Linked DNA regions of Homo sapiens: region 2 is linked to region 1. The links come from fine-mapping of genetic effects on gene expression. A gene starts in region 1. The other region holds a variant in brackets. All regions are shown on one strand. Distances are between the middles of the regions. Region 1 holds the start of RNF220 (ring finger protein 220). Region 2 overlaps EIF2B3 (eukaryotic translation initiation factor 2B subunit gamma).

What was found. PIP is the estimated chance that this variant, and not a neighbour inherited with it, causes the effect.
Region 2: its variant is the best candidate, but not a certain one, in a credible set for the expression of RNF220 in whole blood (TOPMed, PIP 0.65).

What each region holds. Positions count from the first base shown.
Region 1 is chr1:44,398,743-44,411,240 of GRCh38, reverse strand. RNF220 (ring finger protein 220) reads right to left here and starts at 5,986. Exons shown (of 15, transcript NM_018150.4): 1 at 5,711-5,986. RefSeq lists enhancers at 2,128-2,804, 4,571-5,093.
Region 2 is chr1:44,931,537-44,944,034 of GRCh38, reverse strand. EIF2B3 (eukaryotic translation initiation factor 2B subunit gamma) reads left to right here. Exons shown (of 12, transcript NM_020365.5): 4 at 2,370-2,529. It also overlaps the pseudogene RNA5SP47. Among named protein-coding and RNA genes, the nearest start is that of EIF2B3, 49 kb to the left of the region's middle. The variant CT/T (reference allele first, on the strand shown) is at 5,165.

The DNA of each region.
Region 1 (12,498 bases):
CTGGCGTCTCTGACAACACTTAAAACCATAATGGGTGCCTTTGGCATACGCTCTCTAGAAGCATCTGTCTTCTAAGGGCAGCAAAGAACAGATCGGTGATTTTAGTTACTAATGCACTCACTCTTAAGTAGATTTGTAAACTGCCTTGGATTTGCCATTAACATTTAGAACAAAATGTTAACAAAATTTCTGACTTATTTTGCTCTGCTTATTGGCCCAGTCAGAGCTGATGTCCAATAAAGGCCCCCGGAACAAATTGGAGTTCGGAGAGACTTCTTTCAGTTTCCCTTGTAAATTTAGGTTGTACATTTTCATAGTCAGTGGTTCCATTCCAAAGTGTATTTTGAGTGGGGGCTGGGAGAAGGGCTATATATCAAAAGCCGGGACAATATAAGATGAATACCAAGACTTATTAGTGTCAAAAATATACACGAAATAGAAACTTAGTGAAACTCAAAGCATAACCAAAAATCACCGTCTGCTACAAATTATACCTTTAAATTGAGAGTCATATCAGAAATAAAATCTACCTCGTCCCTTTTAAAAAGCCCACCTGGAGTATCTTTGGTATTCCCTCAAACAGAGAAACATCAGTTAAACGGTAGATGAATCCTCCTGGCTTAATGCAGTGCAAAGAGAGTATTTCCTTCTCCCATCCTGTAGCAGACATGTCAATGACTGTTATTAATTGGGAAGATGAGTGGACACCATCAGACTGCTTCCTCATTTGGCATCTTTCCTTATAGACATCATTGCTAAATTACCAGATTATGTATCTCACATTAACGGATTTTTCTCTCTTCCAAATTTTAAATAACTTTCCTGTCAAGTTATAGCAGTGCAGGGAATGATCTGCCAAGGACAGCCAGTTAGGCTGACAAGTCTGGGAATCCTGTTCTTGGCTGTTTTCTAGTCAGATTAATGGTCATACAACATGGACGCTCTGAAAGTGGGTCTAGGGCTGTTCCAAGGGTTCTAAGCAGCTCTTCACAACAGAAATAGCTACTTATCTATCAACAAGCAATATTATATGAGGAAAACTGGAGAAAAGAAATGTGAAGGGAGGAATGTTTCCCCCTCAAAATACGACCCCCCCCAGGATTCACTTGCTATTTTTACTTCCTAGATCACCTCATTATCTTAAATGAGTTTCATAAATTAGGAATCTGGTGACAGCACCGGACACTCCAACAGAACCTGGTGAATCACTCAACCCTGGTTATTCATTTGAAAACTTCATTACACTGAAAATAAATCAACAATATTTTTCCAGGCCACATCTCTTTTACTTCATTGCGTGGGCGTTGGTCTCCATGGGGGAGGGGGGAGTGCTTTTTTTCTTTTTTTTCTTTTCCCTTTTCTTTCTTACCCTCTCCTCACATTAACAACTTGTATAGATGAGGCTTCAGCTGACCACAGTCATTATGAAAATCTATAGTTAATACACTCCCAATGTCAAAATGTCATGGGTTTAAACACAGAACCCAAAATAAGAAAACTAACTGACCCTCTTAATTAAAAAAATATGGATTGTAAGATAATCAGCTTGATGGAGCATTTGGGTGACTGTGAAGAACCCGGCAAAGGGAAAGTAAGTAACTGTTACTTTTCTGCCTCTATGCTGATTTTTTTTAATTTAGCACTTCGTGCAAATCCAGATTAAAATAACTCCAGCTATTGATCCGAGCAGTGGAATTGACATTAATTTTAGTTCACTTCTCACTTTGCAAAGGGATCAATAGGAAGTAATAACAGCTGACATCCCCGCTGAAAGGAGGAGAAAGAAGGGCTGAAGACAGAAATCGAAAAGCAACCAAATAAATCATCAGCTACTTTTCCACGGCATCAGACAAACTCCAAACAGATTGCAAAAAGTCTTTGTTGAATTAACTAAACAAGGAGGAGGGATCAATCCACGAAGCTAAATAAATTGTCTGGCAGGCAGTGAGGTTGGACGGAGGGACCAACAAATATTGAGTTAAAAAATTTCAAATCCTTGACGTGATGGGTTTGGTTCAGTTCCGTATCTGTGGGAGTTTGTTTGTTTCTTAAATCACACTCCTGACCCTGGTTTAAAGTGATTGCAAAACGCCAGCTATCTGAATAATTAGTGAGATTACTAATTGCGTGGTTAAACACGCCAGAACCAAGACAAATGAAACGAAGACGTCCGCGTTTGGAACGTGAAAATGTCTGAGGCTGGGCTGATGCGCAGCGCTCCGCGCTCTGCGGAGCGAACTAGCCACTTTCGCACAGAAAAACCGAAAGCCCAAGAGAAAGTCTCAGAGAGTAGGTAATCTCCCATCCCAGTCCAAGGTCTGGGCTTCCTGACCTGCGCCCGGGATCGGCATAGAAGGAAGCGGTGCTGCTGCCCCCTCTGCCTCCGCCGTAGCTGAGAGCCAAACCCCTTTGCAAATGACTGCCACAAAGAAAGCTGCAAAGGGCTCTTTCCCGGAGCCGAGCTCAGGGCGCCCACCAAACTACGGCTCTGCTGGCAATTAAAATGCACACACAACACTCCTCTGCTTATTACAACAGGTGACAGTTTTGTGGTCTCTGAACCGTTTCCAAAAGCCAGGAATTAAAATAATAGAACAAATTAAACGATATTTTTCCTTTGCATAAATAAACTTTTAAAAAAATTAACAAGGAACTTAAAAAGCAAAGAACAATGGGAAATGAGGCAGAGTAGTGGGGGGTTGTTAAGAACGCAGGAAAAAAATTTTTTTTTTAAGTTCACAGACTTCTTCGCTTGAAGAGAATTCCCGCACACCAAATGCCCAGGGGGTATTTGGAAACACCGCTCTAACAGAAATTTTACCACCATATGCGAGAGCTCAGGGAACATAAGGCTAACACAGTTCCCGGGCTAGGGCCGACGCCTGTGTTTCAGGCATGGCCGGGTATGGTCCCAGATTTGGACCCGGGTTCAGGCCCAGCTTGGCCAAAGGGTGCGAATCCGAGACAGCCCGGGCCAGTCCGAGAGTGCGGGGTCGCGGGATACTGGCTCAGCGAGCGGGTGCATTATTCAGCTCGGAAGAGTCTCGACTGGGAAAAAAAATCAACTCTTTTAGGGAAAACGGGGGAAGAAGAGGTGAAGGCGAAACCTACATAAACTTGGGCCCAACGCGGAGCCGAGCCCACTACTCTTTGGCCCGACCTCTCCCTCCGGCTCTCGGTTGCCTTTGTATATAGAATACTCTGGGTCCCAACAACCTCCGCACGAAACAATCTGCGCCCAACTTTGGGCAACCAAAGCGCCAGTCCAGGAAGAACCGACACGTGCAAGGGCCCCTGGTCCGCAGCCGCGCGGGGCCCGCGGGGCAGGGGCTCAGAGCTGCCAGCCTTCGACCAAAGTCCAAGGACCTCCAGCCCCCGAGCAGCCCCGCCCCGGGGGTCACCCGGGTCCCGCCGCCGCGCGCACCACCGCTTCAGCGGGCAGCCGCGGACTCCTCCACTCCCGCTTCTCCTGCAAATACGGACCGGCGCGGGGCTGCCGGGCCCTTCCAGCTCCTGGACTGCGGATGCGCAGTGCGGGAGGGAGGGTTCTGCGGCCCGCACCGCGGCCGTCCGGCCGCCGCACACCGCGCGGCTCGCAGAACAGGTGTGTGTCCCCGCTCGCTCCGCGCCCGGCCCCGGCCCTGTCGGCCACCAGCGGCGCGACGCGGCGCCGCCCCGTCCTCGGCCTTCCCCAGCCTTGCCTCGAAGCGCAGCAAGCGAACTCACGCCACTTTTGCCGGGTCTCTGCGGGCCAGGAGGGATCGGCACGGAAGACGCCAGCACCGCTCTTCCTCGACGCTCTTTCTGCCTTTCCCCCCTCTGCTCATTCCCCTTTGCAGGAAGAGCCCGCGAGACGGAAAGAGGAGGCCAGGCAAGGCAAAGCCCCCCTGCCCACTCTGCTCCCCCCAGTCCCCTCGCTGCTTCCTCACTGCCGCCCTTTTTTTTCTTTATTTTTCCTTTCTCTCCCCTTTGCCCCTCAAGCCGAGTCCGGAGCGGAGGCGAGAGGCAAGATGTGGCTGCTGGGCGTCGTGGGCAGCGAGTGCGGTGCTCTCCCCCTCGGCGGCTCCCGGGCCAGTGGGCCGGCGCAGACCCCAGACGACCCGGGCCGGCCAGGTAGGGCTGTGCCCCCACACCTATGGCCCGGGCCCCATGCACCCACCCAGTGCGACGCGCGCCTGGCTCAGGGCCGGAACACGGGCTCTCCGCTGGAGCTGCATCCACGACCCGAGAATGCAGGGTGTGCTTAACGGGAAGCGAGAGCTTTCCCCCTGCCTCCTGGCTGCCCTAGTCCCCGCTACTTCGGGACTCCTGCGCGCCCTCGCCAGCTGGGGTCGACCTGGGCCGCGAGCTCTCGGAGAGGCTCCTGGACTGGGGGATGAACCGGGCATCCCCTCGGATGGCCTCACCACCGTGGGCGGCCTCGCCCGGGGGGCCACACGGAAGCTCTCCGCCCAAGTTTGTTGTGCCCTGGAAGAAAAGGCTTTCTCTTACAAAGCACAAAGGCGAAACGCCCAGGCCGAGCCCTGAAAAGCCCCGGGTTGGGGGGCGGGGGTGGGGTGGGGGAGGCCGGAGGCTCCGGAGTGCGGTGGCGGGGCTGGGTTCCGGGCAGAGAAGGTCGCTCGGCCCGGGCTGACAAGCGCGGCGGCAGTGGCCGCAGGACCGCAGCGACCGGCGTGCTCACTGAAAAGTTTTGTTCTTAAGTCAGAAGAGAAATTGTTACTCAGTTTAAGGCAGGTCTAAGATAAAAATAAAACTACAAGTAGAGTAGTCAAGTAGCCCTCGTCTCCACGATCGTCCTCCCGCCTTGCTCAGTAGAACCGCTGGGAGAGGGGGTCCCGACCCCGAAAATCCCGGGAGATCCCACGTGTCGGGCTACTCTACGGCCAGGCCGGTCCAGCCCAGAGGAGTGGGGAGTTTACCGGTGGCGTTTAGAACGGTCCGCCTCTATGCTAGCACCTGCCTCCTTCCTGCCCGCAGAGGATCCATCCATCCTACCCCACCTCCCTCCCTCCACACCCTTCACACCCGCCCCCGCTAGGAAAAAGTCAGCCGAGCACCCGGGGTCCAGGGCTAAACAGCCACTCCCCGGGTATCCCGCGGAGCCGGCTGTGTGTGGGGTGGAGGCTGTCGGGGTAGTTTCTCATTCGGCTCGCCCCTTCTCCATCCGCCCGCCGCCTCGGGCTCCCCACTGAGTACCACCCAGCCCTGGCCTCGCCGGAAATCAACGCGGGGTACATAGGGGAGCCCGGAAATCACCGGGGGGTGCACCAGAGAGCCCGGCGAGAAGGCATTCTCGATATCGACCCGAACAAAGTGGGAATGGGGCTTATTAAGAGACGGAGAAAAGAAGTCCTGCTCCCTTCCCTTGCAGTGCCCTCACCCTCCCAACTTGTCCAATTCCCGCGTCTGGTCCCTCCCCCTTGCACCTCCCCCCCTCCCCAAATAAAACACATTAAGGAAAACTCAAGACGGAAAGTTTGAGCGAGGCAGCGCACGGAGCGCGCAGGGCGCCGATGCCGAGAGGCTCCGTCGCGATGATCCAAGACGCGCCAGTCCGAGTCCCAGTCCCTGCCCCCGTCCAGAGGGAACCGCCCGAATCCCTAGGAAACGGACCCGGAAAGTTAGCCAGGTTCCTGAACAAGCCGGCCGCCCTCGCACCCACCCCTCTTGGGTACGCACACACGTCCACACCCCTTTCTGATCTCCATACTTGCCGTGGAAATTCCTTGGGAGAACGGTCGCACTTTTCAGGACACGGAGGGAAGCAGGCGGAGAGTGTGGTGCATGAAAAGTCCCGGGTTCGCAGAGCCGGCGGAGGCAGCGGCGGCGGCGGCGGCGGCAGCGGCAGCAGCAGCAGCAGCAGTAGGCGGCTGGCCCCGGGTTTGTGTTCGCGAGCTGCCTGGGATTGCATGTACAGATCAAGAGACTCAGTTGGCGTGAGAGAAGGAGCAGTGCTGCCTCTCAGCGCTGGATCTAATCAGTGAATGAGCCTCCACTCTCCCAGGGACTCGGAGACACACACACGCGCGCACACACACACGCACGCACACATTCTCTCACACTCACACACATACAGGCACTCTGAGCACTGAATACATTAGGGCACTAAGGGACTCTGGGAAATGAAGTCCAGACCCAGGGCACTCCTGGAGAACAGACCTGCTGGCCCTCACCAAAGAGCTTGGAAGTCTTGGGGTCGCGAGCCATTGTGAACTAAAGAGAGCGTTGGCTTTTGTTTACATCCCTCCTCCCCCACCCGCAAAGGTCTCAGTGAATGGTTTCGTGCTTGTTGTTCTTCCTTTCCTGAACCAAAAGGGACCAAGAGTAAATGGGCAAAGCTTGAAGACTGACATCCACTGCTGCTTAAATGACCCCCAAATCCTGGGTCCCTCAAAATCTCTGTCTTTTCCCAGAAAAATCTTACCTGCTGCTTTGTTCCTGGAATGCTTCTCTGGGTCTTTGACTATAATAATAAATAATAAATGAATATTAATAAAACTGTAACTTTTGGAGGAGGTGAAGGCCTAGTATAGCATCCAGATGTGAGAATAAAATTTTTTATTGGTGTTTTATTGATGTTTATATTACAGTTCATTTCAGATCATTTCATATCATCCTATAATTCATCAAACACAAAGATAAACAGGGGAAATGGATAGAGAACTAACATTCCTGAGTGCTTTCTAGGAGCCCGGTTATGAGACTAAATGCCTTTACATAATTTCATTTACTCCTAAGATTAATTCTGGAGATAATAATATTACCACTAGTTTATAGAAGAGGAAACTGGGGTTGAAAGGGTTTTGTAATTTGCCCATGAAAACGTGGTTAACAAGTCTTGGATAGCAGGTAGTTCTAGTTCTGAAAGCAAAGTTCAACCAAAATCAAATCCTGGTTTAAGAAGTCATTCCTGGCCGGGCGCGGTGGCTCACGCCTGCAATGCCAACACTTTGGGAGGCCGAGGCGGGCGGAACAAGAGGTCAGGAGTTCAAGACCAGCCTGACAAACATGGTGAAACCCTGTCTCTACTAAAAATACAAAAAGTAGCCGGGCGTGGTGGCATGCGCCTGTAATCCCAGCTACTCAGGAGGCCAAGGCAGGAGAATCGCTTGAACCCGGGAGGCGGAAGTTGCAGTGAGCCGAGATCACACCATTGCACTCCAGCCTGGGTGACAAAAAAAAAAAAAAAAAAAAAAGTCATTCTTTTGTTTTGTAGTTAAGTGTCTAAAACCTCAGATTTCTCATCTGGAAAAAAAAAAGGGAGGGTGGGGAGAAATGGAGTACACACTGATAATCCACTTTACAGAGAACCACATAGGATTATAAATTGTCTAAAAAGAATGAGACTCAAAATCTCATTCTTGCTATTATTTCATTGTCCTTTTTACTTATGTTTAACATTAAGGTAGCATCTAAATATTAAGTATGTTTATGTATATGTGTGCTGTTGGTATTTTAAAATTTTAATTGGCAACTCTAAATAAATTGTTAATTTGATCACTTAGAGTTCTACATTTACAACTATTTCTATAATTCGTGATATCAGGATTATTTGTTGAGGAACTTTATTTTTATTTATTTATTTTTTTTGACATGGAATCTCACTCTCTCGCCCAGGCTGGAGTGCAGTGGTGTGATCTTGGCTTACTGCAACCTCCGCCCCGAGTTCAAGCGATTCTCCTACCTCAGCCTCCCAAGTAGCTGGGATTACAGGCATGCCCCTCCATGCCCAAATAATTTTTAGTAGAAATACGGTTTCACCATGTTGGCCAGGCTGGTCTCAAACTCCTGACCCCAAGTGATCCGCTTGTCTCGGTCTCCCAAAGTGCTGGGATTACAGGGGTGAGCCACCACGCCTGGCCTGTTGAGGAACTTCTAATCCATGTTTAATCATTCATTCATACACCAGCATTTATTATGTTAGGCTCTATTCTTTCCACTAAATTATTATTTCCTGCTGGATTGTAAACTTCATGAAGTCAAGAACCATGTTTGTTGCATTCTACATCATACCCTAAGCACCTTACAGCATCAGTCTCTTAGTTGAATGAATAAACGAGGATATAAAAATGAACTCCTGTCCTCAAAGAGCTCACCATCTAGTAGAGGAGACAAAGAAAGAGTTAGAAATCAATTTGATAACCACTGTAATAAGGATGACCTTAGAATTTATTGATCTAACTGAGACAAGTTTGATGATAAAAAAGGGACACTTTTAATAATTACACTGGGATGACAAATGTCAACAAGGGCCATCCTGGGCCAAGCAGATTGAATGGTCACCCTAGCTACATAAGGTATTTCATTCATTCATTTAACAAGCATTTATCGAGAACTCTCTTGCCTGGTGTGTTAAAGGAATTATAAGCCACTGATTTCCCTCAAAATTGAAATATGAAACATTGAGCAGCAAGAGATAGGCAGGAGAAGTGGGCCAAATCACAAAAGGCTTTGTATACTAAGCTAAGGAAAGTGGATGTTATCCTACAGATGATGAGAAACCCCTAGAGGGTTTTAGGGGTGTGACAGGGTAGGATTTCTGTTTTAAAACAAGCACTAGTTCCTGGGTGGACAAGGTGGAGGTTAGACAAGAGGCAGGGAGGCCAATCAAAAAGTCTATCTCAAGTAATTCAGTTGAGATGAAGTAGGGCCTGAACCAAGGTACTGGGGCAGAGTGAGTGGAGAGGAGGGGACACATTACAGTGAGATCTAAAAGGTAGAATCAACAGGATTTAGCCATTTTAGTATGGTGGATGAAGGCAGAAGGAAGACTCTATATAAATCCTAAATAAGATTTTATTATTTATAGCAAAAGATGTTGTCAGTACTTTAATGTTTATCAGTAGTAAAAGGCTCCCTCAGACTAACTTAGAGAGTTCCCGTAGATCCAGTGCACATTCTCACAGATAGATGATACAGATAAGAAGGCCTGTTCAATCATCAAGCCAAATATTTTTAGCTGTTACCACATGCAGTGGTCCTCACTACGATGCAAGTACTCAGAAACTAGAATTAATCACTGTCTATAACAGCAATCTAAACGAATAAATTAAATGCAAATCCCTCATAAAATCAGAGCAAAATTATGTAATGCAAAATTGAATATGTAATACCTCACTAATTCACAGGTCATATGTCCAGCAACCTCAGCTATCCAAAACACAATGAAGCAGGAAATAAGCAAAAAGGGTCCCAGAATAGCCAAAATAAACATTACAAAGTCCATGCACTAAAGTTAACACATTTCCCTCCTAGGAGAATTACACAAGCCTTCATTCAGAGCCGATTTATTCTTTCTTAGGTACAATTCTAATAAGCTTGATTATTTGGCTTTCCCATTCACAGCTGATTAAGATTGTCAAATTAAAAGGGGGCAGCCATTAAAAAGAATGATATAGACTAGGATGTATTGACATAGAAGGATACCTATTATATACTGTCGAGTGAGAAAAGCAAGTCATACAACAGTATGTACAATATGATTTGATATTTGTCCGTATACGTGTACACACACATTGACAGAAAAAGGCCTGTAGGGATACATTAAACCGTTAACAATGGTTATGGCTAGGGAGTGAAAGTGTGGACGTGACAGGGTGGGGGGTTAGACAGGAATGAAGGGAGGACTTTGACTTTTTACTCCATAGACTTCTGTTTGTTTTCAGTGAACATATATTAGTTTTGTAATTTTAATATCCGTTAAAACGTATATAAAAAGAGCAAAGGGTAGTGTTGTTAGAGCAAGAACACTGACAATGAGAAATGGTGACCGAACTATAAGAAGCAAGCACCATAACTCAAAAACTACAACAAAATAGGGTTATTTGGTGTGAAGGCAAAAAGCCCTATCCCATCAGTGCTCCCAGCGGATGTCATGAATTCCAACCAAACATATCCTGATACTTTTGGGGATAGGTCATCAAGGAACACATTACACTTAGTATATTTTACTTATGAGAGTAAGCACACGTGTGAAAATATAGAAAAATAAATTCCTACCAAAATGATTTAAACAGAAGATTTTGATACTTTAAGAAGTAAATTTCAGTTGTCTGGAAAATATACTTTTGTGTAACACATCATTCCCTGAAGATGAGAAGTAAAGGAGATATCACTTTATATAAGAACAGAGGTGATGCAGAGTAAGGAATGGTCCACAAATTCAACAAACATTTATTGAGTGTCTACCAAGTGCCAGTCACTAAGAATAGAAAGATAAATAATAGTGCCTGCCCTAGAGAGGTTTATAGTCCAACAGCAGAGATGGATTGGAAAGCAAATACATATGGCACAATGAAAGCAGTGCTATAATGGATATTCTGAGTATAGGGTGGTAGAAACACAAAAGAAGGAGGTGCTGAGTCTGCCTGGAGCTATTAGGAAAGGAGGCAGAGACAGAAGTGGGTGTTTTAAAAAATAACTATCATATGGGATGACATTTAAGCTTCGTTAAAAATGACTGTTATATGGAATGACACTTAAGTTGGGCTTTGAAGGATAAGTAGTTTATCAAGGGAGAAAAATAGGAAGAGCACTCCAGGATGAGCAAATAGCGTATGCAAAGGCACATGAAATTTCCTGCCACATTCCGATAGTACATCTCAAATTTTTCCTCAAGAAAGAGGTGGTGCAGGTGGTGATGTCTAAGGGCAAGCCTAAAATGGCTTGCCACTAGCTTGAAATTTATGTATCCTGTTTTATCTTGAAAAATGAATGAAAATTTTGCCTTCAATTCCACAAATATATTAAGCTTTAATATAAAACCATGTTTTAAATTACTTATCATTTGATAGAACTGATGCTCCAGAAAGATGCACCACATTTATTTGGTGCTTTCTCACATCCAAAGCACAACACTAAATAAACCAGGGGCATTCATTCCTAATTTGAAAAACATTCAGAAATTGGGCTGGGAGCTGAAAAAAAAGATGTAGAAGATATAAGGGGAGACTGGAAAAATAGATTAATGGACTGTGAAAGATCTTGTTTGTCACATTAAGGAACTAACTGGACACTCCCAGTGTCTAGCCAACTCCTATTTATACTTCAAGACTTTGTTTGGGATGGACTCTTCCAGGAAGCCACCCTGCCCACCAGCCTCTCTTCTCCTCAAATCTGATTATCATAGCAGTCTATGCATGCATCTATTCATTTATCACATTGTACTGGAATTATCGATTGTTTTCAGATTCCTCTAATAGACTCTGATCTGCTTAAAGCAGAATTCTGTCTTAGTTGTTTTGCGTGGTACTTAGCACAACAGATACTGGTGTCTGTCGGACTCAACTGATTTAGATAAAAGGACAAGATTCAGAAAGTACTACCTGGTCTAGATTCTAAAGCTTCTTGAAGGTAGGGCCTGCTTGCGTACCACTGCATCCCAAACACTTCACACTCACTGGAAACATCCAGTAGGTGATTGATAAAAAGTGCAGAATGAATGAGTGAAAATTCTCAAAACAGGAATGACATGATCAGATCAGGGTTTAGAAAAATAAAATTGGAGGCAATTTTAAATGTAGACTGGAGACGAGTAAGACTGGAGACAAAGAAATTAGGGAGAAAAAATGCAAAAGATACATAGGACAAATTGGTAAAAGATTGCCTTTTCTTAAAAATGTTTTTCTAATTGGCTAATTTGATTAGATGTTTATATTTATGTTACAAGACTGGTCTTTTTATTCTCTTAGGATTTCCTGATGGAGGATATTCAGTTGCCTTGTTCCCTGACCCCAGCTGCCTTCAGGCTGGTGTCTTCTTGTACATCTGGAGGTCACTGAGGGCAGTGACTATGTCTTATTCATCTTAGTATCTCCAATGCCTAGGACATGCCTGCTCAATAAATGTTTGCTGAATGAATGAACACATAAATTGATCTATTAGTATACTGTACTCAAGCTCCGACCAAGACACAGAGGACCTAATGATCCCCAGTGTGTGGGTTTCTGGATACAGGAAACAGAACAAATAAAGCAAGACTGGATACAAATGCACACCTATTCCACAGGTAACACAGGGTAAATTTCTCTCTCTGACCCTTCCATCCTCATTCTGAAGAATAACTCTCATTGAGTGAAAATCAATAAAAGTCATTTTAAGGGAAGTAGGTTTAGAAAAAGGCCCTGAAGGAGGAGCAAGGAGGAGGGGAACTTCAAGTTTGAGCAATCTGGACTTTTAAAATATATATATAAGGACTTGTAAGCTTCAAAAAACCTTCACAAAATAAAAAGTCTGCTTTTCTACACTCACTTTCAAAAGGAATCTCCCTCATCTATGCCCAACACATAAACCAGGAGACTTTTTGAGATTTCCAGTTTTATCACCCAAAAAGAAAAAATAAATTCACAGTAGAAATAATAAATCCTCCATTTTTCATATTGACTCCAACAAGAAACTTTCTGAAGTAGTTGCAGGTAGCTCCCAAAGACAGTCAGCCAATATCAATGCCAAGATTGACCGTCTGGCAATCTAGCAACAAATATTTACTGACTACATACT
Region 2 (12,498 bases), 530 kb before region 1:
GTAGCTGGGACTATAGGCATGTGCCACCATGCCCGGCTAATTTTTGTATTTTAGTAGAGATAGGGTTTCACTGTGTTGCTCAGGCTGGTCTCAAACTCCTGAACTCAGGCACTCCGCCCACCTTGGCGTCCCAAAATGCTGGGATACAGGCATGAGCCACTGCGCCCAGCCTAAACTATATTTCTTTAACACTATTCAGTAATACAGATTCTTTAGTTATACAAATAGCCATTACTAATTGTTAAATCTTAGTTACATAACTACTATAAATCTGTTTCTTCGTTGGTAAAGTGCTAATAATAACAGCTCTGGGCTAGGCGCGGTGGCTCACGCCTGTACTCCTAGCACTTTGGGAGGCCAAAGTGGGCAAATTGCTTGAGTCCAGGAGTTCGAGTCCAGCCTGGGAAACATAGGAAGACCCTGTCTCTACTAAAAATAAAAATAAAAATTAGCCAGGTGTGGTGGGGCACGCCTGTAGTCCCAGCTACTAGGGAGGCTGAGGTGGGAGGATCACTTGAGCCCAGGAAGTCGAGGCTGCAGTAAGCCATGATCATGCCACTGCACTCCAGCCTGGGTAACAGAACAAGACCCTGTCTCAAAAAAACAAAAATTTAGATATAGATATAGATATAGATATAGATATAGATATAGATATAGATATAGATAGTTCTTCCTGCATATGGTTGTTGTGAAGATTGAAATATGTTTTTGGCCAGGCGTGGTGGCTCACACCTGTAATCTCAGCACTTTGGGAGGCTGAGACAGGATTGTTTGAGCCCACCAGTTCAAGACCAACCTGGACTACATAGTGAGAAACATAGTGAGACCCTGTCTCTATTTTTTTTTTAATTTAAAAATAAAATTAAAATAAAAAATAAGGCCGGGCGTGGTGGCTCACACCTGTAATCCCAGCACTTTGGGAGGCCAAGGCAGGTGGATCACGAGGTCAGGAAATCAAGACCATCCTGGCTAACACGGTGAAACACCGTCTCTACTAAAAACACAAAAAAAATTAGCCGGGCGTGGTGGCGGGCGCCTGTAGTCCCAGCTACTCAGGAGGCTGAGGCAGGAGAATGGCATGAACCCGGGAGGCGGAGCTTGCCGTGAGCCGAGATCTTGCCAGTGCACTCCAGCTTGGGCAACAGAGGGAGACTCTGTCTCAAAAAATAAATAAATAAAATAAAATAAAATAAAATAAATAATGTTTGCAAAGTGTTATCACAATTCCTGGCCAATAGTAAGCATTCAGTAAACATTAGTTATCATTGTTAGTTTTTATTATAATTAATCTGAGATATTAGAATTATAATCAGGCATGGTAGCTCATGCCTATAATCCCAACACTTTGGGAGGCCGAGGTGAGTGGATCATTTGAACCCAGGAGTTTGAGACTAGCCTAGGCAACATAGGGAGACACCATCTCTACAAAAAATGTAAAAATTAGCCAAGTGTGGTGGTACATACCTGTAGTCCCAGCTACTTGGGAGGCTGAGGCAGGAGGATGACTTGAGCCTGGCAGGTCGAGGCTGCAGTGAGCTGTGACCGCACCGCTGCATTCCAGTCTAGGTGACAGAGTAAGACCCTGTCTGGAAAAAAAAAAAAAAAAAAAAAAAAAAATATATATATATATATATATATATATATATATATATATATAAAATCAGAAAGCCCACCAATAAGAGAAAACCTTTTCTTCGTTGATTTATTCATTCATTTGTTAAACAATTATTAAATACCAACTGTGTGTCAGACACTGGTAACAGGCCTTATTTTTCTCAGCTATAAAAATAGAGGCCAGTAATATTAATAATAACAATGCCTTTCTGTCATTCTTATGCTATTTTTATAAGATTGAATGGGTGCCTTGTACATACCTGAGGTTACATTGTAATTATTTACTATAGAATGTTAAGTTCCTAAGAATGAAGCATTGTATTCTGTTCATCCTGTTATTTCCTAGTACTGTAGTAAAGTGATTGTTCTTTGCCATATTAAGTCATCAAACTATGTGAAAATGCTCTTTTAAACTATAAAGAGATGTATAAATATAAGATCATATATTCCATAGTCATAGAAATAGACAATGTGGTGGTTTTCAGACTGTTTCTTAGAACCTAGGGTTCCAGAGATGTCTCAGGGACTGCCCACACAGTTCCTGAGGTACACAAGGGAGAGGTAGAGTTTCCAGACCCTATACCAGCACAATTCAATGAGAACAACCCCATTTATTTTACTTGTTTGGCTATGAAAAATGCTTGAAGAGTATTGTCTGATTTGTGTGGTTTTAAGCCATCCTAATTTTGTCTTGTGATGATTTGTGTAATCCATTGTCCTTTATGATATTGACTTTTCCCATCTCCATTTAACAGACAGATGTGCTGGTGCTGAGCTGTGATCTGATAACAGACGTTGCCTTACATGAGGTTGTGGACCTGTTTAGAGCTTATGATGCATCACTTGCTATGTTGATGAGAAAAGGCCAAGATAGCATAGAACCTGTTCCCGGTCAAAAGGGGAAAAAAAAAGCAGGTAAGGAAGATTGGAGTTTGTTTTGTTTGTTGAGTTTTCGTAATTATTATTCTCACTCATGCTTTCCCTGAAAAAACATTTATTAAGAATCTACTATACATCACAGATTCTGTGCTAGGAGTTGATGACATAAAGTCAAATAAGACACAGTCCCTGAATGGAAAATGCTTAGAACTATTGATTAGATTCTTTAATGTCCTTTTGTATGCAGAGAGGAACATTCAGAACTATTTGCATTGTATTTAAGGCTCAAATAATTGAATACGTATATCTAAGAAACAAACAAACAAAAATCCAATTTAAAATTAACTTTTAAAAATAGGCCAGGTGCGGTGGCTCACACCTGTGATCCCAGCACTTTGGGAGACCGAGGCAGGGGGATCACAAGGTCAGGAGTTTGAGACCAGCCTGGCCAACATGGTGAAACCCCATCTCTACTAAAAATACAAAAATTAGCTGGGCGTGGTGGCGTGTGCCTGTAATCCCAGCTACTCAGGAGGCTGAGGGAGGAGAATTGCTTGAACCCAGGAAGGGGAGGTTGCAGTGAGCCGAGATCACGCCACTGCACTCCAGCCTAGGCAACAGAGCAAGACTCCATCTCGGTGGGGGGAGAAAAGGAATTAAAGTTACTATCACAAATTTAGTATGGCTGGTTCTTTCAATGCTTCAGTCACCCTAAATGACCAATAAATGTGATAGTTGTTTCTTTTTCTTTTTCTTTTTCTTTCTTTTTTTTGAGATGGAGACTCGCTCTGTTGCCAGGCTGGAGTGCAGTGGCACCATCTCGGTTCACTCCAATCTCCACCTCCCGGGTTCAAGCACTTCACCTGCCTCAGCCTCCCGAGTAGCTGGGACTACATGCACATGCCACCACACCCAGCTAATTTTTGTATTTTTAGTAGAGACGGGGTTTCACCATGTTGGCCAGGATGGTCTCTTACTTATCTCTTGACCCCGTGATCCACCTGCCTCTGTCTCCCAAAGTGCTAGGATTACAGGCATGAGCCACTGTGCCCAGCTGATAGTTGTTAATCATGCTTATCTTCCTAGGATTATAACATACTTATTTTGATTGTAACATACTTATTTTGATACTTATTTTCCTAGGATTCTAGTAGTCCTTTTATGGGTTTAAATTTTCCTGAATGATGTGTTTTTTTCCTTGAAGTTTTCCTCTGGAATGATGTATTCTTTAGGTTTTGCTTTGCCAGCATTATGTAACCCACTATTTTGTCATTATTATATGTTGGCATATTTTGTTACAATTATTAGACTATGTATAGCTTATTAATTTCTTACTATTATTAATAGAGCCACTGAGAGCCTTCATACTTAGGATTTGAATAATCTAGTTAATATTTTAGGACGTTTGGTTAAATTATAATTTTCCAGTATAACATTGAAACTTGTTTCTAGTTGCTTTTTGTGTTCAGATGATCACTGGTGCAGATTAATTGTTGGATACTTTTTCTACATTATTGTTATGTGATGATACTCATGCTGATCAGTCTTTTTGTTCTTCATATAGTTTCTGCTTTTGCAAGGTCTGGTTTACTTACAATTCCCTGTATTCATTCTTTTCTGCCTACACAGATAGAAATAAATATATAACCAGATTTTATAAACAGATATATGTTTCATAATTAATTTTTTTGTTTCCTTTGTACTCTATTTATAAAAATCAATTAAAAAATCAACTTATTCTTCTTGTCATTAGAACTTTTCTTTAAATTTTCTCCCTTTTCATAGGCATTGATAAAACTTTTTAATACACTTTATATATAGTTTTTATGTCTTAAGTATCATTATAAATGCACAGATTTTCACAATTCCTTTTCTTTTATTGTAAATTTAACAATTTATAATTGTATAAATTTATGGGATACAAAGCGATGTTATAATTTATGTATACAATGTGGAATAATTAAATTAAACAGGTTAACATATCCATCCCTCAAATACTTAACATTTTTCATGGTGAGAACATTTGAAATTTACTCTCTTAGCAATTTTGAAATGTACAATACTCTTGTTAACTATATTTACAACATAATTCTATTTTAAATTAACTGTAACTATTAGCTACCTACCATCCATTTTTAAATGTTTTCATGCTTAAATTGTCAGTTTGGCCAATGGAAGTCCTTTAAGCTGGATCCTTTATCCTCTGAAAAAGTATGATGTATACTGGTAACTTTCTATAGCTGGAGTGTGAATATAGGAGGCAGAGAAGCAGATAGGACTGGAGAAGAGCCAGATATCAGACGAAAGAGTTTGAATTCTTGCCCAAAACAGTGAGGAAGTTGTTGAAGTAAACAAGATAGTGTCATAATTAGATTAGATTAATGTTTTAAGAAGATTTTTCTTTCCTTTTGTTTCTTTTTTTTTTTTTTTTTTTTTTTTTGAGACAGGGTCTTACTCTGTTGCCGAGGCTAGAGTGCAGTGGCTCAATCTTGGCTCGCTGCAAACCTCTGCTTCCTGGGCTCAAGCAATCCTCCCACCTCAGCCTCCCGAGTAACTGGGACTATAGGCACTCGCCACCATGCCTGGCTAACTTTTTGTATTTTTTGTAGGCACAGGGTTTCACAATGTTGCCCAGGCTGGCCTCGAACTCTTGAGCTCAAAAGCAATCTCC[CT/T]GCCTCAGTCTCCCAAAGTGCTGGGATTAGAGGCATGAGTCACCACACTTGGCCTCTTTCTTTCTTTCTTTTTAAAAAGATACTGGGGGGCACCATGGCTCAGGACCGTAATCCTAGCACTTTGGGAAGCTGAGGCAAACAGATGGCTTGAGCCCAGGAGTTTGAGACCAGTCTGGGTAACATGGTGAAACCCCATCTCTACAAACAATTTTTTAAAAATTAGCTGGGCATGGTGGCTTGTGAGCCTCTAGTCCCAGCTACCTGGGAGGCTGAGGTGAGAGGATCACTTGAGCCCGGGATGTCGAGGCTACAGTGAACCATGATCATGCCACTGCACTCCAGAGTCTCACTCTGTCCCAAAAAAAAACAGAGAGAGAGAGAGAGAGAGAGAAATTAGGTCTCATTATGTTGCCCAGGCTGGTCTCAAACTCTTGACCTCAAGCAATTCTCCCACCTCAGCCTGCCAAGTAGCTGGTATTACAGGTACCAGCCATCACTCCTGTCAAGTTTTCATTCTTAATATGAAATTTTAAACTTCTCAATACCTATATTTTGTTACATTTGAAGGCTAAGATTCACCTAAATAATTGAGTTTTAAATTCCTCCCATAGAATGCTATGCATTTCCATCATAAGCATTTTTTAAAGAATCGTAAGTTTTTCAGATTATATATTTGGCATGCCTCTTGGCTGCTGTTGTGTGCCAGAACAGCCTGCAGTCCACTGTTTCCCAGATATTGTTTAATAGTCTAGATCTTCTAGACCCAACTTCCTCAAATGGCGTTCTTACTGACTTATAGGGGAATGGCTAATCTCTGGATGTTTCTGGAGCCACCTTTCTTCCCCTTGCACTTTCTTCTCAGAAAATTTATAGGAGATACTGATACTAAGAGGGCAGGATCAAATTCATGTTTAGACTTTTTGGAGTATTTCATTCCTGCTGCAGGTCTTTTTTTTTTTTTTTTTTTTTTTTTTTTTTTTTTTTTTGAGACGGAGTCTCGCTCTGTCGCCCAGGCTGGAGTGCAGTGGCGCGATCTCGGCTCACTGCAAGCTCCGCCTCCCGGGTTCACGGCATTCTCCTGCCTCAGCCTCCCGCGTAGCTGGGACCACAGGCGCCCGCCACCACGCCCGGCTAATTTTTTGTGTTTTTTAGTAGAGACGGGGTTTCACTGTGTTAGCCAGGATGGTCTCGATCTCCTGACCTCGTGATCCGCCCGCCTCGGCCTCCCAAAGTGCTGGGATTACAGGCGTGAGCCACCGCGCCCGGTCTGCTGCAGGTCTTTACACAGCTTCCTTGCCTGAAATGCTCTCTAGTCCCTTTCTCCTCCGAACACATATATTCCAAATCCAGCTTAGCCTTCAAGTTATTTCTGAGAAAGACCTATCCTGACCTTTTAATATAAACTATATCCTTTTGTTTGCCTACATATAGCAGCCTGCTCTCTTATTTACTCTTTCCCCTACTGGACTATAAGCTCCATAAGGGAAGGGATCATATCTGTTTTGTTTATTTTATTCCCAGCACCTGGCCCAGTTATGTCCCATGGTGAACAATCAATAAATATTATTGAATGGCCTGCTTATAAAGGCAGCTCTTCTTGCCCCCCACCCCAGGTAAGTGAAGATAGACCTGAGCACTAGCAGTTTAAAATCCTAAAGATGTTAGTCTGAGCTATAGTTGGATTCATAAGTAGGTATTACAAGAGCGCGTGAGCTTGTAATGCTTTTAGCAATATGGATCTAGCAGACTGATACTGACTACATTGTCTATTAATTTTATGTTTAGAAATGGTTTCAAGATTTTTAAAAAAATACCCAGCACTGCACCATGATTGTTAAGAGCACAAGGTCTATAGAGTTCAGACTGGGTTTCAGTGCTCAAAAGCTGTGGGATTTTGGGCAAATTACCTTGATCTTCATGAATTTCATTTTCTTCTGTTGTAAAGTGAGCCTGAATCCTTTCAGGATTTTTGTGAGAATTAAATGACATGTTTATAAGGCATGTGGCCCATTCGTTACCTGAAAGATAGTAGATGCTTAATAATTTGTAATTACTATTGTAATTTGGTACTGAAACTTAACAAATCTCATTTAATAACTTTGTAAACATTCTATATCACATATTTATTTCATGTAAAATGGCAGTACTTTAAAAAACCACAGAATATCAGAGTGTTTTTGTTTGCATTTTTACCATAATAGCTTGTAAGTTTGAAGGGAAACTCATAGTGACAAATGTCTAGACAAGCCTCTCTGGAAGGCTCACATGTAACTTTTTTTGAGACAGAGTCTCATTCTGTCACCCAGGCTGGAGTGCAATGGCGCGATCTTGGCTCACTGCAACCTCTGCCTCTCGGGTTCAAGCAATTCTCCTGCCTCAGCCTCCTGAGTAGGTGGGTTTACAGGCGTCCACCACCACGCTCAGCTAATTTTTTTTTTTTTTTTGTATTTTTAGTAGAGATGGGGTTTCACCATGTTGGCCAGACTGGTTTTGAACTCCTGACCTCAAGTGATCCACCCGCCTTGGCCTCCCAAAGTGCTAGGATTACAGCCATGAGCTACTGCGCCCAGCCCACATGTAACTTTTCTAGTGATTCAAACAGCCCTGCTTTCTAGCATTTTCTAGAATGTACCAACTTTTGAAAAAAAAATTTTTTTCTCAGGAAAGAAATGGACAACTTAGAAGTGTAAGCAAGACCCAGAAACCCAGCTAAGGCTGTGCGGGGAAATGGGGTTCTAAACTCTGAGAAACCTCATTTCTTTTTTTTCATCAGTAGATACCATTATTATTCAGCCATTGTCTCGCCATTGCTTGATACTACTTACTGAGTGAAAGGGTGAAGAGATCAGCTTACCACAGTTACTGAGTATGTATTATGCCAACTCCTGAACTAGGCACCAAGGCTATAGAAACAGAAAAAAAAAAAAACCAAAATGCCACAATATCCCTACCCTCAAGGAGACACAAAAAAGTGTTCATTGTACTCTCCCCAGTCATAGGGCATTTTAAGAAACTTGGAGTCTGATGGGGAAAATTAGACTAGGTATTGTGTTTTTAAAAGAATTTACAGGCTGGGTGCAGTGGCTCACGCCTATAATCCCAGCAGTTTGGGAGGCCAAGGTGGGAGGATCATTTGAGGTCAGCAGTTTGAGACCAGCCTGACCAACATGGTGAAACCCTCTCTCTCTAAAAATACAAAAAAATTAGCTGGGTGTGGTGGCACATGCCTGTAGTCCCAGCTACTCGGGAGGCTGAGGCAGGAGAATTGCTTGAACCCGGGAGGCAGAGGTTGCAGTGAGCCAAGATCACGCCACTGTATTCCACCCTGGGCAACAGAGCAAGACTCCATCTCCAAAATAAAAAAAGAATTTATAAAAGCCTCTCATTTGTAATTGTTTACATTCACAAACATCAAACAGTAAAGACGACACATAGAGAATTTCAGTGACACCGTATATGCATATATATCTTAAACTTGCAATAATATGTAAAAATAATTTGTTTTCCATCCCTTGTTAGAAACTTTCCTTTTCTCAATTTCAGTGAGAAGATAATATATTTATATTGCTTTATTGCAGATAATATGTTTATTAGGGGGCTTTTTTTCCTGTACATTCCTCTATGTAATTGTTTAATACTATCATGATTTAATGACACAAATCATTGACTATTGTCTCTATAGTCCCACTGTATCTCTTGGAATACTTGAAATAGAAAATGTTCTAGGAAACTTTATTTAACCAATCCAATTCACTGTAGTATTTCCCAAACTCCTTAGTTCTCAGAGTTATATGGCCTTGGCCCAGACTAGAATCAGTACATGTTAATGTACTTCAGAACCATGAGTGAAAACTCTTACTTGGCTGTCACCTCTTAATCGGCTTAGCTCCCTCTGCACTAACAGATGTTGGCAGGCAGTTCTGAGCCTGTACAGTATTTCTTTTGCTACAGCTTTCTTTACTTCTCTTGAAGCTGTACTACCAAAAAAAAACCTGTTTGGGCTTCTGTGTTAACTATTTTCTCCTCTCAGTCTTCCAAATCCCACCCCATTTTAAAAAATAAAGTGGGCCAGGCGTGTGGCACACACCTATAATCCCAGCACTTTGGGAGGCTGAGGTGGGTGGATCACCTGAGGTCAGGAATTCAAGACCAGTCTGGCCAACATGGTGAAACCCTGTCTCTACTAAAAATACAAAAATTAGCTGGGCGTGGTGGTGGGTGCCTGTAATCCCAGCTACTTGGGAGGCTAAGGCAGGAGAATTGCTTGAACCTGGGAGGTGGAGGTTGTAGTGAGCTGGGATCACCACTGCACTCCAGCCTGGGCAACAAGAACAAAATTCCTTCTCAAAAAATAAAAATAAAATAAAAAATAATAAAAAATTAAAAAAATTTAAAAAACAAAATAAAAATAAAGTGACTTGAAATTCCTACATACTCAAAATTGAATTTTGTTTTGTTTTGTTTTGTTTTTTGAGACAGAGTCTCACTCTGTCACCCAGGCTAGATCGCAGTGGCACAATCTTGGCTCACTGCAACCTCTGCCCTCCGAGTTCAAGTGATTCTCCTGCCTCAGCCTCCCGAGTAGCTGGGATTACAGGCGCCTGCCACTGCACCTAGCTAATTTTTTGTATTTTTTAGTAAAGACGAGGTTTTACCATCTTGGCCAGGCTGGTCTTGAACTCCTTACCTCGTGATCCACCTGCCTCAGCCTCCCAAAGTGCCGGGATTACAGGTGTGAGCCACTGTGCCCAGCCTGTTTCACTCTTGTTGCCCAGGTTGGAGTGCAATGGCACGATCTTGGCTCACCGCAACCTCCACCTCCTGGATTCAAGTGATTCTCTTGCCTCAGCCTCCCTAGTAGCTGGGATTACAGGCATGTGCCACCATGCCTGGCTAATTTTGTATTTTTAGTAGAGACGGGGTTTCTCCATTTTGGTCAGGCTGGTCTCAAACTCCCAACCTCAGGTGATCTTCCCGCCTCGGCCTCCCAAAGTGCTGGGATTACAGGTGTGAGCCACTGTGCCCAGCCATAATTTTCTTATTTACCAAGTGTTTGTCTTGTTTTTTATGGCCTAATAGCATTTTGACCTAATAGCATTTATGGCCTAATAGCATTTTGTGGACAGTTGCTCGAGATAACATCAGTGGTAAGTGGTAAGAGCCAGAACTCAAACCCATGCCTTCTGATTCCATAACCTGTGCTATTTCTTTTTTGAATTTAGTTTTTATCTTTATCAAAGTTTTATATGCCCAAAATTTAAAGAGTATCTAATTATCTAAGATATATTATAATAAATAGCAGCCCCTCACCCTATCTATCCTCACCCCACTTAGAGATGCCACTTTCAACATTTTCAGCTAATTTTTTGGCATTTAACTCCATATCTCCAAATAACGTGCTTTTATTTTCTGTGTCTTAATTTTTTTAGCTTTAAGAATTATCTGTTCACTTCTTACTATAGAATGTAAAGATTTGGTTCTATTTTACCACATGCTCTGCCCCCACTACATGTATGCAACCTTGTATTTGGCCCAATTTCCTAATATAGTTATTCATATTGTATTATTAATTAACTGAATATTTTATGTTTATATTATCATGACTGTATAAATAGTATTCACAGTTGAGCCTTGTAGTATATGATTACTTTTCTCTTTCCTCCTTTTGTTTTCCTAAAGATTGTCTTGTTTTTTCATTTGCTTGTTTTTTATGTATTTGTCACTAATTCAACCCAAGCTCCAATTGTGTGAATTTCCTCTCCTTACATTGCAACACACTAGATGTCCTCTCAATTTCAAATTCTTCAAGGTACCTCTCCTAAAGCTTTTCTAACCTGAGTTAGTTGCCCTGCTGTAGAGCTGTCATTTTAGGTTCACCCTTCACTGTCATATCTTGAACCTCACGTTTTCTTCTTTCTTACTTTATACCCACATTTTCTGTAGGACACATCCTCTGGAAGCCTCCTGAGGTACAGATTGTGAGAAGTAAATTTTTGAGCTTTTGTATCCCTGAAAGTGTCTTTATTCTGCCCACATATTTGTTTCATATTTTGGCTGGATATAAACTTCTCTTGGAAATCATATCCCCTCAAAATTTTGAAGGTTTTTTGTTTTGTTTTGTTTTGTTTTGTTTTACTGTCTTCTAGCTTTTCTTTTAAGAAGTCCAACATCATTCTGATTCTTGATTCTTTGCATGAAACACTTTTTTCCTCTTTTTCTTGGGATGGGAGGGGGAGCTTATAGGATCTTTTTGTTTCCGAAGTTCTTCAAGTGAGAACACTTAAAATCTACTCTCTTAGGAATTTTCAAGAATACAATACATTGTTACTAACTAGTCACCAGGTTGTATTAGGTCTCTTTATGAGCTTATTCCTCCTAAGTGAAATTTTGTATTCTTTGACAAAGGTCTCACAATAGTTTTTTGTTTGTTTGTTTGTTTGTTTATCACATGGTATTCCTAAGCAGACTTCCATGCAAGTACTAACTAGGCCTGACCCTGCATAGATCAGATGAGATCAGATGCCTTCAGGGTGATATGGCTGTAGACTTCCCACCCCCACCCAGTAGTCTAAGTTTCTGGTTTCTTTTTCTTGTCTTACTGTGCTGGCCAGGACCTCCAATAAAATTATGTGTACAAATGATGCTAGTTGGCACCCTTTTCTCATTCCTGATTTTAAAAGGAATATTTTCAACATCTCTCCAGTTAAAATGATGTTTATTACTATAGGGGTGTGTGTGTGTGTGTGTGTGTGTTCGTTTTGAGACAGTCTCTCTCTGTTGTCCAGGCTAGAAGGCAGTGGCACAATCTTGGCTCACTGCAACCTCCGCCTCCTGGGTTCAAGCAATTCTCCTGCTTCAACCTCCCAAGTAGCTGGGATTACCAGCATGTGCCACCATGCCCAGCTAATATTTGTGTTTTGGTATGAGGTTTTGCCATGTTAGCAGAGATGATCTTGAACTCCTAGCCTCAAATGATCCACCTGCCTTGGCCTCCCAAAGTGCTGGGATTATAGGCGTGAGCCACCATGCCCAGCGTACTATACATTTTTATAGGTACTTGTTATCAGATTGAGAAAGTTCCTTTCTAGTTCTGGTTTATTGGGAGCTTCTTGGCCTAAGGATATAAATTTTATCAGATGCTTTTTCTGCATCTATCAAGTGGTATATGATTTTTCTCTGATGATGTGATGATGATACCTGGGATAAACCCAACTCGGTCATGGCTTATTATCCTTTTACATGTTGTGTTAGTTTTTACTACATAACAAATGTTCGTAAACTCTAGTGGCTTAAAACAACAAACATTTACTTGCTTATGAGTCTGTAGGTTGGC